3 separate regions of the Homo sapiens genome follow, and all the other regions are linked to region 1. The links come from fine-mapping of genetic effects on gene expression. A gene starts in region 1. Each other region holds a variant in brackets. All regions are shown on one strand. Distances are between the middles of the regions.

Region 1 (2,667 bases):
GTGAGAAAAACAGCAGAAATGTTACAGAGTAAAATGGACCCGTTTGCTTTTAAAGTTTTGTTTTTTGTTTGTTTGTTTAGTTTGTAATTTAGAACCGTTTGAAACAACGTTTCTCAGAGTGTGCTCTGTGGAACAGAGGGCCCTCAAAAGGTACCTCACCAGAAAAAGCTGTCTTGTCAACTAAATGGGGAAAGTACTCCGTCGTGTTTCCTCTCTGAGAGGCTCACAATGTGTGTCACCATCTGGAGGCTCTGCAAGAATGGAGAGTAGTAAAAGAAGATTTTTCACTTTAACCCAGCATTGTTTGCTTGGCAAGTAGATCTGTTAATATCCATGGATTGTATCTGGGGAAATACCAAGTTTTTCATAGTTACTTAACCCTTGAATATTTATCCTCCTCAGAGCATGGAAGCAAGCAGTAGAATGCGATCGTTGATATATGGACTTTAATTTTTTTAATTTTATTTATTTATTTATTTATTTTGAGATGGAGTCTTGCTCTGTCACACAGGCTGGAGTACAATGGCACGGTCTCTGCTCACTGCAACCTCCGCCTCCCAGCTTCAAGCAATTCTCCTGCCTCAGCCTCCTGAGTAGCTGGGATTACAGATGTGTTCCACCACGCCTGGCTAATTTTTGTATCTTTAGGAGAGACAGGGTTTCACCACGTTGGCCAGGCTGGTCTCAAACTCCCGACCGCAGGTGATCCACCTGCCTCAGCCTCCCAAAGTGTTGAGATTACAGGCGTGAGCCACCACACCTGGCCAGATATATGGACTTTAGACTCAGACAACGTGGGTTCAAACCCCAGTTCTGCTATTTGCCAGGTGTGTGACCTTGAGCAATAGCTTAACCTCTCTAAATGTCAGTCCATAGCTAAGCTGCCAGTAAATATGAAGTTCATTGAGATTTTTCTTCCTGAGCTTGTCATTCAGAAACAAAATGATAGATTTGCATGGATGATGGATTTCCCAACAGGTCAATTTTCACATCTGGAATCTACTTTAAACGTGCTCTACCACATCAAAGTCTAAGGAAGTCAATCTCACTTGGAGGCACACTGCAGAGACAAGTAGGCCTTCTTCCTTGTCCCTCTGTCCTTTCAGACTTCTCCCCCTCTTGTTCCCTCTCTCTTCTTAAGCTTTCCAGCTCCACTACTGCTTTGGCTAATTTCTTTGGGTTCCCCCTCTCTCATTCACCCAGCACCAGCTGAACTGATTTAGGTTTACCTGGCTATGCTTTCCAAATCTAATTCGACAAATATTTACTGAGTACCTAGGTGGTCCTTGAATCACCCTGAGCACCCAATTCCAGGATATGACTTCTTCAAAGGACAGAATTGGAATGTTTACATAATATGAGGGAAAAAAAATAAAAGAAAACACTTAGCTTCTTTAGCAAGCTATCTGATAAAATAGCTGAAATTCAAGAAGCCCTTTAGTTAGGAGGGAGAGATTGCGAACACAACAGGAAGAAGCCCCAGGCTGAGTGGCAAAGGTTGAGATTTTCTATCGTAAGCACACCTCACCCAAACGCTTGCTCCCTGAAAGCTGCTGACGGAGCTTTGGCGAGGGCTCATCCTCCCGTTGGCTGATAAGCGAAGCCCTGTTTTATATTTAACTCGCTGCAGTGCAGGAGGGGTAGGGGTGGAGATGCGTCGTTTATAAGGGGAGCTGTGACAATCTTCTTGCCAGCCCTCTTCCTCCCACTCGGCTCCTCTTACGGAGTCCTCATTCCACCCCCCTTGTTTCCGCATTCATCCTGAGTGGCTGGTGGGAACGTGAAAAGGGAGAGGAAAAGGCGCAAGAAGCCAGAGAGAGGGGTGTGGGAAAAGCGAAAACAGGCTGCCAAATCAGGGGATTCCTTCCAATTTAAAAAGGAAGTCTGCTGACGTTAGTTAGTTAAATTTAACATCTTTTTATGTGTAACACTTGACTTTGGAAGCAAAAATGAACTTTGCGGAGAGAGAGGGCTCTAAGAGATACTGCATTCAAACGAAACATGTGGCCATTCTCTGTGCGGTGGTGGTGGGTGTAGGATTAATAGTGGGACTTGCCGTGGGCTTGACCAGATCGTGTGACTCCAGCGGGGACGGCGGGCCGGGCACTGCGCCAGCTCCTTCCCACCTGCCTTCTTCCACGGCCAGCCCCTCAGGTCCTCCTGCCCAGGACCAGGACATCTGCCCGGCCAGTGAGGATGAGAGCGGACAGTGGAAAAACTTTCGACTGCCGGACTTCGTCAACCCAGTCCACTACGACCTGCACGTGAAGCCCCTGTTGGAGGAGGACACCTACACGGGCACCGTGAGCATCTCCATCAACCTGAGCGCTCCCACCCGGTACCTGTGGCTGCACCTCCGGGAGACCAGGATCACCCGGCTCCCGGAGCTGAAGAGGCCCTCTGGGGACCAGGTGCAAGTCCGGAGGTGTTTCGAGTACAAAAAGCAGGAGTACGTGGTGGTCGAGGCGGAGGAAGAGCTTACCCCCAGCAGTGGAGATGGCCTGTATCTCCTGACCATGGAGTTCGCCGGCTGGCTGAACGGCTCCCTCGTGGGATTTTATAGAACCACCTACACGGAGAACGGACAAGTCAAGTAAATATTAATTTTTGCTTTACCTCCCTTAAGCTCACATATCTGCTTTCCATTTCTTTTCCTTTCCTTTTCAC
Region 2 (2,667 bases), 61 kb before region 1:
GGAAAACCTCCCTTTTGCTTAATTCAAAGTCAGCTGTCTACTGCAATAATTTGCTAGTGTGCCATCACAAAACACTGGAAACTGGGTGGTTTAAACAACAGAAATGTATTGTCTCAACAGTTCTGGAGGCTGAAAGTCTGAAATGGAGGCATCTGGTGGGTTGGAAACTTCTGAGGACTGTGAGGGAGAATTCATTCCATGCCTCTCTCCTAGATTCTCCCAGCCTTATGCATTCGTTGGCTTGTAGACGGCCTTCTCCCTACTAGTAAGGGGAAGACATTACTAGTATCTGTCTGTATACAAATTCCTTGGCTTGTAGATGGCCTTCTCCCTTACTAGTATCTGTCTGTATACAAATTTCTCCACCTTTTAAAAATCTAGACATAAGTCATAATGGTTTAGGGCCCACCCTAATGACCTACCTCATTTTAACTTGAACATCTGTAAAGCCCCTATTTTTCTTTCTTTCTTTTTTCTTTTTTTTTTTTGAGACAGAGTCTCGCTCTGTCACCCAAGCTGGGGCACAATGGTGCCATTACGGCTCACTGCAGAGGTTCCAGGGTTCAAACGATTCTCCTGCCTCAGCCTCCCGAGTAGCAGGGATTACAGATGCATGCCACCACACCCAGCTAATTTTTGTATTTTTAGTAGAGATGGGGTTTTACCATGTTGGTCAGGCTGGTCTTGAACTCCTGACCTCAAGTGATCCACCCGCCTAGGCCTTCCAAAGTGCTGGGATTATAGGCATGAGCCATCGTGCCTGGTCCATCTTTCTAAATAAGGTCATGTTCTCAGGGACTGGGAGTTAGGAGTTCAGCATCCTTTAAAACCCATAAGAATTAGTAACCTGAATTAATCTGCAAAATAAATGAGGGAACAGAGGCCAAAGAGGGTAAACCACTATCAGATGGACTAGAACCCAGGCACGAGGACTCATTACTTCAGCCTTTCATCCTCTGTGTGTGTTCACAGTCCCCATTTAAATATGTATGTTGTATCAAGGACTACAATAGTAATTTGGAGTTTGGGAAAATTGCATATCCTGCGCTGATGGACTGGAAGATGAGATGTGCTTTAGGCAGAGCCTGTTTATCAATAGGTGAGTGGCTATGAAATGGGGGTAGGAACCCATAGGGAAGAAACTAGATGATCTGCTGAAAATGAGAAGAAAAATGAGCTGCTGGACCTGCCAGCTGGCACCACTGCTCAAGTGGATTATGAACTGAATATAGAAAATATGAGGGAACAAAGAGCTGTATGAGTGTTCACAGCTGTTCTCCTCACATGCATGACCCCTTCTCAAACATATTTTCTGAACGAATCACTCTCAGCAGGAAAGTGGTCTCTCTACTAGGAATAACAAACAAGACAGTCTCTACAACTACTTGGGCAAAGAGAAGCTTTGCCATGGAGAGGTCTGCTCTTACCTGTGTTT[C/T]GCAGAATGCTCTGCAGAGAAACACTCACTTTGTTCATGATTTGTCTAATTCCTGGAAAACATCAGCACTGCAATTTAGTTTTAGAGTCTGTTGAAAAGATGTGCTGGCATTAAAAAAAATTAAGAAACTATGCTGTGAACTGCAGACTTTCTGAGAAATCTGGAATAGTTTGGCCCACACATTTCCTCTCAATTGAGAACACAAGGTTTGGAATCAGGCCAGGTGACCTAGGTTATAGCTCTGGCTCTAACTACATGACCTTGTCCAAGTTACTTAATGTTCATAAACCTCCATTTATCTATCAATAAACAGGACTAATAATACATACATACCTCATGGGGATGCTGTGAAGATGAGATGAAATCCATCATCAAGGAATGTTAGCCAGAATCAGAATCCTTATCACCACTACATTCTCAAAGTCTCCTTAGATCCAAATTGAACATTTTTAGGAATAATTTTTAAAAATAAAATCTATCTTTTCTTTGTAAATTTGCTTTTTAGTTTAATGCTTAATGTTTTGGTCAGTTGAATGAACTCTTTCAGCATCCTAAAATTATGTTAATATTGAGGAAAATATTGCTTACTAAATTTTTTGGATTAGAAAATAGTGCATGAATGCAGTAAATTCTCTGGATTCAGAGTCCCGAGTGCTCACCATTACGCCAGAGAGCCCCATGATAAAATGCAGTAAATTCTCTTGCCAGGATTGCAAGCTGACTCAATTGAAAGAATACCGTTTTATTTTTCTTATTTATTTATTTAGACAGAGCCTCTGTAGCCCAGGCTGGAGTGCAGTGGTGTGATCATAACTCACTGTAGCCCTGAATATCAGGGTTCAAGTGATCCTCCCATCTCAGCCTCCCAAGTAGCTGGAACTACAGATGGGCACTACCATGTCTGGCTAATTTTAAATTTTTTGTAGAGATGGTGTCTTGCTATGTTGCCCAGGTTGGTCTCAAACTCCTGAACTCAAGTGATCCCCCTGCCTTCACCTCCCAAAGTGTTGGGATTACAGGCATGAGCCACCACATCTAGCCAGGGAAAAGAATACTAAGTGTGAACATCAAGAACCTTGATGTTACGTAACAACCTTGTCACCAGCCAGTGATATATCCTCCAGTGCCTTAAATATTGGCTTCCTTGTTCATCAGATTTAGTAACTAATGAGGCATAACTGAGTAAGCAATAAAGGACTCATAAAAGAAGGGTCTCAAGTTCTCTGGTGCTG
Region 3 (2,667 bases), 27 kb after region 1:
ATATATACCACATTTTATTTATCCAGTCTACTGTTGATGAAAATAAGTTGATTCCATCCACGTCTTTGCTACTGTGAATAGTGCTGTGATGAACGTATGGAGGCCTGTGTCTTTACGGCAGAACAGTTTATATTTCCTTGGGTATATATATCCTGTAATAAGATGGCTGGATCATTTGGTAATTCTGCTTTAGTTCTTTGAGAAATTGCCAAACTGCTTTCCACAATGGATAAACTAATTTGCATTCCCACCAACAGTGTATAAGTGTTCCTTTTTCTCTACAAGTTTGCCAGCATGTTATTTTTTGACCTTTTAATAATAGCCATTCTGACTGGGTGAGATAGTATCTCATTGTGGTTTTGATTTGCAGTTCTCTAATGATTAGTCATGTTGAGCATTTTTTCATATGCTTGTGGGCCATATGTGAAAAGTGTCTTTTGAAAAGTGTCTGTTCACATCCTTTGCCCATTGTTTAATAGGGTTGTTTGTTTTTGCTTGCTGATTTAAGTTCTTTACAGATTCTGGATATTTTACCTTAGTTGGATGCATAGTTTGCAAATATTTTCTCTCATTCTGTATGTTGTCTGTTTACTCTATTGATAGTTCCTTTTGCTGTGCAGAAGCTCTTTAGTTTAAGTCCATTTGCCTACTTATGGTTTTGTTGCAGTTTCTTTTGGCATCTTTGTCATGAAATCTTTGCCAGGTCCTATGTCTGGAATGGTATTTCCTAGGTTATCTTCCAGGGTTTTTATAGTTTTAGGTTTTACACTTTTTAACCTGTCTTGAGTTGACTTTTGTATATGGTGTAAGGAAGGGGTCCAGTTTCAATCTTCTGCATACGGCTAGTCAGTTATCCCAGCATCATTTATTGAATAGAGAGTCTTATCCCTATTGCTTCTTTCTGTCAACTTTGTTGAAGATCAGATGGTTGCAGGTGTATGGCATTATTTCTGGGCTCTCTATTCTGTGTCATTGGTCTGTGTGTCTATTTTTGTCTTAGTACCATGCTGTTTTGGTTACTATAGGCTTGTAGTATAGTTTAAAGTCAGGTAATGTGATTCCTCCAGCTTTTTCTTTTTGCTTAAAATTACCTTGGCAATTATATTTTTGGTGCCATATAAATTTTAAAATAGTTTTTTTCTAATTCTGTCAAAACTATCACTGGTTGTTTGATAGGAACACCACTGAATCTGTGAATTGCTTTGGGCAGTATGGCCATTTTAACAATATTGATTCTTCTTATTCGATGTTTTCTTTTTTTTTAATTATTATACTTTAAGTTCTAGGGTGCATGTACACAACGTGCAGGTTTGTTACATATGTATACATGTGCCATGTTGGTGTGCTGCACCCATTAACTCGTCATTTACATTAGGTATATCTCCTAATGC[T/C]ATCCCTCCCCGCTCCCCCCACCCCACGACAGGCCCTGGTGTGTGATGTTCTCCTTCCTGTGTCCAAGTGTTCTCATTGTTCAATTCCCACCTATGAGTGAGAATATGCAGTGTTTGGTTTTTTGTCCTTGTGACAGTTTGCTGAGAATGATGGTTTCCAGCTTCATCCATGTCCCTACAAAGGACATGAACTGGATGTTTTCTTTATTTTTGTCGGACTGAGTTAGTTTGGGGAGCCAGTTTTTGAGCTCTGAGATTCTTTCTTCAGCTTGGCCTATTCTGCTGTTAATAATTGTGATTTCATTATGAAATTCCTGTAGTGTGTTTTTTTTAGCTCTGTCAGGTCATTTTGGTTCTTTCTTATAACGGTTATTTTGTCTTTCAGTTCCTGTACTGTTATATTGTAATCCTTAGTTTCCTTGGATTGGTTTCAACTTTCTCAATGGTTCTCAATGGAATCTCAATGATCTTCCTTCCTATCCATATTCTGAATTCTATTGCTATCATTTCAGTCGTTTCAGTCTGGTTAAGAACCCTTGCTGTGGAACTAGTGTGGTTCTTTGGAGGAACCAAGGCAGTCTGGCTTTTTGAGCTGCCAGAGATCCTGCACTAGTTCTTTCTCATCTGTGTGGGCTGACTTTCCCTCAACTGTGGTGGCTGATGTTCCCTCAACTGTGCTGTAATTTGAGTACAGTCAGTTGATTTCTTTCCTGGATGTTTTCAGAGGACGAAGTGTTTGTGCTGGGTCATTATTTGCGCTGAATTCATGTCCTTTGTTTCTCAGGGGCGTTATGTTAGCAAAGTATTTTTGGTGCTGAAGTTTGGGCTATGATCCAGTAGATGGTGCTTAAGCATAATGGCCAGTAGTTAGGCTCTTGCTCAGCCACAAGGCTCCTCTGTGTTTCCTCCTAATTGCAGCTGTGCTCTCTCTCAGTGCTCTGAAACTGCCTGCTCCTCTCCAACTCAAGTACTGGCTGCAGATCTCAGCTTGGCACTCCTGGGCTGCTCACCACAGCCTTGGAGCAAGCTCAGGCTTTATGCTCCTTCTGCAGCCTGGAGGCAGCAGGGGAAGGGACCTTGGCAGTTGCTGTAGCAGAGGGCTTTTCACCGGTCTTTTGGAACTCCACCCCAGAGAAATGCAGAGCCACTACCAATTGGTGCAATCAGCCCGGGGTCAGGTGGTTGTATTGTGGGCCCAAGCCAAGGGCCTGCCTGGTGATGAGCAGGGGTAACAGGGGGTTGTGGCTGGGACAAACTGGCTTCTTTTCCTTAGGGT

What was found. PIP is the estimated chance that this variant, and not a neighbour inherited with it, causes the effect.
Region 2: its variant is the best candidate, but not a certain one, in a credible set for the expression of ENPEP in lung (TOPMed, PIP 0.62).
Region 3: its variant is the best candidate, but not a certain one, in a credible set for the expression of ENPEP in lung (GTEx, PIP 0.88).

Annotation. Positions count from the first base shown.
Region 1 is chr4:110,474,466-110,477,132 of GRCh38, forward strand. It overlaps ENPEP (glutamyl aminopeptidase), which reads left to right and starts at 1,690. Exons shown (of 20, transcript NM_001977.4): 1 at 1,690-2,593. The coding sequence starts at 1,950.
Region 2 is chr4:110,413,131-110,415,797 of GRCh38, forward strand. No RefSeq gene overlaps it. Among named protein-coding and RNA genes, the nearest start is that of ENPEP, 62 kb to the right of the region's middle. The variant C/T (reference allele first, on the strand shown) is at 1,436.
Region 3 is chr4:110,501,651-110,504,317 of GRCh38, forward strand. The region is part of intron 3 of ENPEP (glutamyl aminopeptidase); the gene reads left to right. Among named protein-coding and RNA genes, the nearest start is that of ENPEP, 27 kb to the left of the region's middle. The variant T/C (reference allele first, on the strand shown) is at 1,392.